2 linked regions of the Homo sapiens genome follow. The protein of the gene in region 2 interacts with the protein of the main gene of each other region in a biochemical or structural test. Each region holds a gene or a part of one and is shown on either strand. Other genes may lie near its edges.

The links. The genes of interacting proteins can lie anywhere in the genome.
Region 1: of the proteins of LZTR1 (region 2) and NRAS, one has a biochemical effect on the other in vitro, tested with the Homo sapiens proteins (one study listed by BioGRID).

What each region holds. Positions count from the first base shown.
Region 1 is NC_000001.11:114,703,263-114,707,865, forward strand, and holds the end of NRAS (GTPase NRas), read right to left. Parts: 3' UTR 1,207-4,603; downstream 1-1,206. UniProt on the Homo sapiens protein: Ras proteins bind GDP/GTP and possess intrinsic GTPase activity.
Region 2 is NC_000022.11:20,988,797-20,992,296, reverse strand, and holds part of LZTR1 (leucine-zipper-like transcriptional regulator 1), read right to left. Parts: coding exon 3,425-3,500; intron 2,673-3,424; coding exon 2,615-2,672; intron 1,912-2,614; coding exon 1,772-1,911; intron 670-1,771; coding exon 468-669; intron 84-467; coding exon 1-83. UniProt on the Homo sapiens protein: Substrate-specific adapter of a BCR (BTB-CUL3-RBX1) E3 ubiquitin-protein ligase complex that mediates ubiquitination of Ras (K-Ras/KRAS, N-Ras/NRAS and H-Ras/HRAS).

The DNA of each region.
Region 1 (4,603 bases), on a different chromosome or scaffold from region 2:
TGAAGTTCCAGCTGTCTTTTATTAAGGTAAAGGGTCACATTTCACTGCCCAGTTACTTTTAAAAGCATTACAAAGCATACCCTTCCCACTTGGAAACTGGACAGTGATTCTCTCTGTGCTCTCATGGAGCTGGACATCCTCAGACAGTTTTGCGAAATGATCACTAGCAAGGCCTCTTGGCCTCTTCTCATGTATTTATGGGTATCAAATAACTCATGCAACTATGTTGGCCTTTCAGTGACCTTAAATATTGCTTATGAGAACAGAAACCTTAATAGCACAGAGATGCACAGGTGGTTCCCTCATATTCCAAATAAACAAGCTTCTTTAGGTACCTTCTCATTATTTGTTTCTGTAGCTTTATTTTGCTGAACAGAACAGCAGTTCTCACCAGAAAACATCCTTTCCTCTTTTCCGTTATTAGAGGGTCAAACATTAGAACAAATTTTTGTAAAATGTATATGAAAAAGAAATAGAACTGTGGACTTTGTATGTTTCTCTCTCAAACTATCACCTAGGTCTCTATATGAGGTGATAGTTTGAAAGATACAAATTCCCTAATTCTATTTCTTTTTCAAATACATTTTATAATTAAAATATTTACTCTTTCTAGTTGTCCTAGCTAGAAAAAATATTGTCATTTAAAATTGGTTTTCCCAAGCTTACTTCAGCCACATGTTAATGACCTACCTTCCCTGCCTCCTTTTCAAGAAAAAAAAGTGAAAAAAAATTTTGATGTCTTTGGTAGAGTAAACCAAGGTCTCCAAAATTAGTATTCCAGTGTTAGTTGAAAATGCCTAGGTTTGATATTATTCTTTTTAAAGTCTCCTTAAGGTTGGGAAATCTGATATATCCTAATTCAACTCTTCTATTTTGCAATTGAAGAAACTGGGCCGGCGTAGTAAAATTATATCGGGCCTCAAGTTCTCCAGCCCCTAGCATCAATGCTCCTCCACCTATACCAAGATGGCTAGATTGTGCAGTAATGCAAAAACGAGACAAAAGAGCTCCAATGGCATCTTAATGTATGCAAATCTGACAAATAGCTATGAATCATCCCCAAGGTAATACTTTAAAGCAGGCTTTGATATATTTGATGTTATGATGAAATGAGGAACTCAGATATTCCAACACTTCCAAATGTCACATCCAAAAGTTTGAAATTAATATTAGCATTCTATAAAGGCACTTCAGTGAATATAAGAATTATGACTAAGCCAAGAACTTCCAGTTTTTATTTTTTAAACATCATTTAACAAGAAAAAACATTCAACCAAATTAAAAAGAACTAGGTTGGATTAATTTACAATAAAATAATCAACTTAAAATATCGGCCCTTCCATTTAGGGCCAAGGAGGCCAATAGTTCCTGTTTAAACAGCAGAATTGCACAATTATTTTTACCTATATTTGATGGCACAAAAAAATAAAAGTCTTACAACTTCCACGGACATCCTCCCCTCCCTCCAGAGCAGAGTTCATACAATTCCATCTTAGGTCAGTACTCAGGCTTTTAAAAATCATCTTACGTTTTGAAATATAATACAACTACTCTGGTAACAAGAATACTTTTAAAACAATTCTTATAGAAAACAAATACCTTAGATAATTGTGTGGCACATTAGACTGCTCAAAGAAACAGCAAAGATGAAAAATAATGTACAAGAATTATAGTCCCTTGTTTATAGAAACCATCCAAATAAAATATTTTCCCTAATTTTCCTTGCTTCTTATAATTTATTAGCAGAGATGAATTACAAGAAGCAGAACGCACCATTTTTTGGTTCTTGGTTGTAGCTGCCAACTTAGGAGTTCATGACTATAAATATAAAGCAAATATGATTATGCTCACAAGCTCTGGAATGGTAAAAAAACCCCACATATCTCTAAAGTGTTTCTCTATCCTTGCTTTCAAGTCATGACAAAAAAATTCACAGCAGTTTAAAGGATGGTGAAAGACTAAACATGGGCCCACTAAAATAGAGATTAATTTTACCTATTACACTCCTATAGTAAAAATTGTAATAAGTATGATATTGTATTAAGTAACATTCTATAGTAAGCCGTTGGAGCAAATACAGCATTTAACAGGTTCATTTACAGATCCGGCATGGTAGCCTTCAGACAGAACATCTTATTTTCACTCTTGAACATGTAACCTTTAAAAAAACCAAAAGGAATATGTAATTTATGACAGCTGGCCAGGCACTTAATTTGGGGAAAGAGAAGGATTTTGAGGTAAACTAGAATTCTTTTCAGCAATCACAAACATAGCCTAAAAACCACGTTTTATACCACACTGAAGTTATTCAGCTTTTAACTATAAGTTTGTCACTCCTTTGTGCCAAAATTCACACCTAGGTGTAACTTTTTTTTTGGAGACAAGTCTCTCTTGTCACCCAGGCTGGAGTGCAGTGGCACGATCTCTGCTCACTGTAACCTCCACCTCCTGGGTTGAAGTGATTCTCCTGCCTCAGCCTCTCAAGTAGCTGGGACTACAGGCACGGGCCACCATGCCCGGCTAATTGTAACTTCTTAAGGTATTCAAAGAACATACTCAAGTCTGAATTTTGGCCCCATTTAGAAACTTCTGTGCTTAGAACATACTTGGAAAACTCTAAGTACATACATACAAGGGCTATTGGCACAAGAGCCCAAGATGAGTAACTATCTTTCTCCCTAATTTGACATCAAATTTAATAGATTTTTAAGAAAAAGAATCACTGCCAGTCACAGACATTTAAAAAAGAAATGACTGAGGTGATAAGCCTCAGGAAAATTACAGAGTAGCACTGCTCCAGAAGGAGCAGAAACAGAAAAGCAGAATTTCCATTTACAAATGATGACAGTACTGTGAAAGCTCCCAGAATTAGCAGTAAGAAGCACAACTCTGCAGGTTCATTATACTCTGGACACAGTATATGTTTCTTCTCTTCTGAATTTCAAGGTAATATGACATTTGCTTAATAAATGAAAATTCATAATATAGAAGATGGAGGACCTCAGTAAGTATTTAGATATTAAAGACAGGAACAAAGTGGCCATTTTGGAATTAGTCTTTTATCAAAAGTTATCCAAGTCTATTTTTCATGAGAATTACCAGGGTATTATCTGCAAATTAAAATGCCAAGCCTCCAAATCCTCATAGGTATCAATTAATTATATTTTCCATTCCTGTCTCAACAATTTCAACTTCCTGTTTTGAGCAAACTCATCAGCTTAGATTTATCAACATCTTGTTTTAAACCCTTCAAAGAACATTATGAATAAAGAGAATTTAAAACGTTTCTCAGCTGAGACATCCTCATTCTCAAATGAGAATATTGGCTTAATTTAGAGTTTCTACATGGCTAAAAGAAAAAAAAATGTTTAAATACGTGATACTGAGTTTTCCAGTCATGGTAAAGGGTTTGTGCTAACTGACCTCTTCTTTCCTTGCAGGGCTAACTGCAGCTACCTAGCAAAATTACTAGCTGGAGTTACTGGTGCAATGAGCAAATGCAGAAGAATTTCTTTCTCTGTGATGCTAACTGGATTGTTCAAGTTTTGAAACTGTGACCCTGGTCCATTAGCACCATGCTTTACTCAACTGAAATAATCAAGCCCCTATTGCTGTGGGGGAAGCTGTAGAGGGTGGGGTGAGAAGGGGATTGAAGGCAATTATATACATCATTAAGATACCATGATATACAGTGAAAATGTAATTTGTTAATATACTATATTTGAGGTTTGAAAATCACTGATCACAGCTATTAAATAACAATGCACCAAAGTTTTACAATATTTGAACATCTGCAAATGTAGAGCTTTCTGGTATGACACAAATTTGAATACAAATGGAAGTTCATTGAATATTAGGTTTATCAGTAAGCTAGGGGAAACAAATTACATACATTGTATAGGTAGTAACCTATGAAAAAAGTGGAGATTAGGTAAAAATTATTAAGTGAAATTATTCATGTGCTTTCAGTTTCATCTTTCTCCTGGGAAAGCCCCAAAACAGGCCTCTGGAAAACCAATTTCATACATGTACAAAATGGCATCTGCTCTCAAATAGATATAGCTTTCCTTCAATGGTAGATAAGTCACAGACGTATCTCAGACATTCATTTCATGCATAAGGATTTTTGAGACATCTATTCCACTGAAATATTATAAAGGAAGTCTACAAACCACTTCTAGGAAAAAGGCACTTCACTGTGAAAGTTGGATTTAATTACGTCAAAGTTGTGAAGACTAGGATAGACTCAAAATTCAGTATTCATTTTTGTATTTATGAATCTAGAGCAGATGCCAGTTTAGAGAATAGAGCCGATAACATTATAAACAAACCAAACAGCAATAATAACTATATTCTTGGCAAAACAGTAATTTATGACATTTCTCCAAAAATTAGCATAGTTCTAAGTTCAACAGTAAAAAGAAAAAAAAAATCACCAGCAGTTGCTACTTTAGAGCTCAAGACACTGTTTTCAATAGAATTTCACGTTTGCGGTTTGGTTCTCTGTTTCAGACATGAACTGCTTTTCAGATGAAAAACCTGGGGTGGCAGAGGTGTGTTTGTGCTGTGGAAGAACCCAGGGCAGAAAAATAACAGGGAGTAA
Region 2 (3,500 bases):
TTGAAGCCAACCCGCTCCTCATAGGTCAGGGTGGGCACCTCCTCGGAAGCACAGGCTCGCTCGGGCACTTCAGCCCCACCAACCTGAAGAGGGGAGACACATGGGCATGAGACCAGTTGGCAAGGGCCAGGTAGGTGCCCAGAGACCCCCACCATCCTGGCCTTGAGAGTGGGTTCTGAAAGAAGGAAGAGCTGCATGGCCGTGGGCTTCCCAGGAAAGGTCTGCAGCACAGCAGCCCCATGCAGCCATGATGGGGTGTGAAGCGTTAACTACCTGCAGGCTGTGGGGTGAAGCTGGGGCTGGAGGCCGGGGCAGGTGTCCAGGGCTGAGGCCCAGGTGTCCTGGCCTTGCTCCTGGTAGCTGTCTGGAACCCCAGGGGGCCCCAAAGCTGTGAGGAGCTGGGTGGGAGCAGGGTAGGAGCTACTGGTGTCCAGCTGGCAGGTCAGGACACCCCTGGGCACCCTCACCTCGCTGTCGGAGCTGGGCTGGACGACCTCCCAGGTCTGGAAGTCCACGTCATAGCAGTGCAGCTCGTTGGGCAGCGTGTTGTCGGCCGCACCCCCAAACACATAGAGGTGGCGGTCAAAGGCCACCATGGTATGCCCGTAGCGCCGCTGCGGGGGTGGTGGGGAGCCCCGGAGCAGGTGTTCAGTTGGGATGCGTGTCCACCTGGGGGTACACAACAGTGAATCAATGCTGGGACAGGGGCTCCTGCTCACCCTCGGGGCCTCCCCACAGCAGGCCTTCACTGGGAGGTCCCCCTGCATCCCTTACGGTGACTAGCCCAGGGTCCAGAGGGAGGGCCTAGACACCTGCGCTGAGCACCTCTCACCCCATCCAGCACGGGCACCAGCCCTGCCTGGCTCCATGTGGCCCACCGCAGGGTCCTGCCAGAGCTCCCCCCTCTCCCCATGGAGCAGGCAGCAGTGATGGGCAGGAGGGTGGCATCTGACCCGCCCAGGCAGTCCTGCTCTCTGGGGAGTAAAGTTGTGCAGAGACCATTGCAGGTCACTGTGTTCACGCTGCCCAGTCAGAGCATCCCCACAGCTGAGTCCCCATCCTGGGAGCTGCCTGTACCCCACATCCTGATGCTGCCCCAGCACCTTCCACCTCCCAGGCTTCCCAGTACCTCCCAGCAAGTCCTCTCTTTTGCTAAGTTAGCTGAAGACTTCAGAACAGATCCTGGCCTGGCAGGGCTATGCCATCTGGCTCCATGCTGAGCCCCAGGCCCTTGACAATTTCCCTCATCCTGGGGCTCCCTGCCCTTCCTCCCACGCACCCGTGGCCTCCAGGGAAGCTCCCAAGTCCCTTCCCAAACCCCCTGTACCTGCAGCTCACACTCCTTGTGCCCTCTCCTGCAGCCCCATTGCAGGGATCAAGGGCTGGCCAGCAGCCAGGGGCAGCATGGGCCAGACCTCTCAGGACCTGCAGGCCCCTCTGGTCTTCTGCCATTATTTGAGATCTATGCAGGCCACGTCTGTTACTGGTGGCACTGACCAAGCTATTCACGAGGAAGGGGACGTCCTTCACGTTCAGAGGGAGGCCTAGCCAGGGGCCTCCTCGCCAGGCCTTATCTTGCTAAGCTGTAGCCATATCCTGGGGACCTGCCAGGGGCACCGCACATCCCTGCTCCGGGCTGTAACCTCCTGCTGTTTGCAGAGCTCACAAGGATGGTTACCATGGCCACCAGGTGCAAGAGGCGTTCTTCATATTCAGAAGGATTCGAGGGAACTGACCGTCCTCCCTCCACCCCACTGGCCAGAGTACTCACGTCTTGTCCTTGAATTCAAACTGGAAGAGGTTGTTGGTTATTTTGGCTCCGCTTTGCCCAGAGAATACAAACATCTTGTCCCGGCACACAGCCACGGGGAAGTTGCAGCAAGATGGGGGGATCTCGCCACTCTGGGCCACCTGCAGGGGGAGAGGACAGCTCAGCCCCGGCCTCACAGGGCCCGCTCACATTTCACCACACTCGAGACTGCTGAGATGGGACTGCTTTTATTCTTGAAACTTCCCCAGATGAGGATTCACAGATTCCTTTGTCTTGGAACAGCTCATAGCCCTGTCTCATCCACTTCACGGGGCCCAGTTGTGAACAGCTGGGGTTAAAATCGTCAGGGTTAAATCATCAGGGGCTAAACTCATGTTTTTCATGCCCAGAAGACTGAAAAACAATTTTTTTTAATGAATAAATAAATAAATTCCATGTTTCTAAAGGGGAAAGCAAGCCCAGGGGGAGCTCCAGGGAGCAGGACACTGGATAGCAGACGGCCCTCACTGCACTGAAATAAAGGGTGCGTTAAAGCAAAACCACATCCTCACACACGTGGCACTCTGCCCATCCAAAGCACCAAACCTCGAATCACTGTGCAGCCACAGTGAGGAACTGGTCGTGAAGGCCCGCAGGTCACCAGGGAGGAGAGCGAGGCTCAGGTCGAGGCTGGGCTTTGCAAGGGGAAGAAAGCAGCCTCGACCCCCAGCCTGGCTCCCCCTGCCTCCCACCTCCCTCCACCTGCACCCTGTCTCCCCATGCCCCTCACCTCCTCCACCTGCGCCCTGGCTCCCCGTGCCCCTCACCTCCTCTACCTGCGCCCTGGCTCCCCACGCCCCTCACCTCCTCCCAGCAGGTGAGCTCTCGGTCCTGGAGGCCAATTGTCCACATGTCATTCAACCTGTATTAGGACAGACCAGTGAGGACCCCTTGGGTCTGGTGGTCAGGGTGGGCCTAGTCCTGGCTGGAAGGGATGGCTGCAGGGAGGAGCCCCACCCCCACACAGGGTAGGAGACTTGTGCGGCCATGAGGCGGGAACTTCTGTGTGGGGTGGCAGCCACTGCCTCAAATCCCTGCTGTGCCAGGCCCCCTGCCCGGCCCAGACAGAACAAGTACTCTCATGCATGACATCAGGGCAGTGTGGCAGTGCCAGCTCCTCACTCAGTGTCCCTCCTGGGTGGGGAGAGGACACAGATATCCCAGATGCCACCATCACTGCATCGTTAGGAGTTTCTATGATGCTGAAGTTTTGGGAAACCAGCATATGCTACTTTTGTGATCAGAAAAAGAGAGCAAAGCCAACTTTCTAAAATAAGGAGGAAAAGGCCTTTGGCCTGGGCAAGAACCAGGGCTGGGCCTGAGCCTGGGCACCGCCCACCCGCCCACCAACTCAGCTCCGCAGGGCAACTCCTGGCTGAGGATCCTCATCCAAGCTACTCTGGTAGCCACGGGGCTCCACCCAGTGGCCCTCACCTCCATCTGTCCATCCTCCTCTTTCCCCATCCCCCTCCCAAGAAACCCCCAGACAGAGTGGCACTCAAAATCCACCAGGCACTCAAAATCCTCCCAGCCTAAGCCCTCAAATGCCAGGACGGCCTGCTCCGGGTCTCAGTGCTGTCGGAGGTGGGGTGCACAGGCCGGACCACCACCCACCTGGCGTTGCCGTCATAGCCAGCAAAGATCCACAGCTTGTCACTGTACACCGTGGCCCCATGGGCTGACCTAGCGA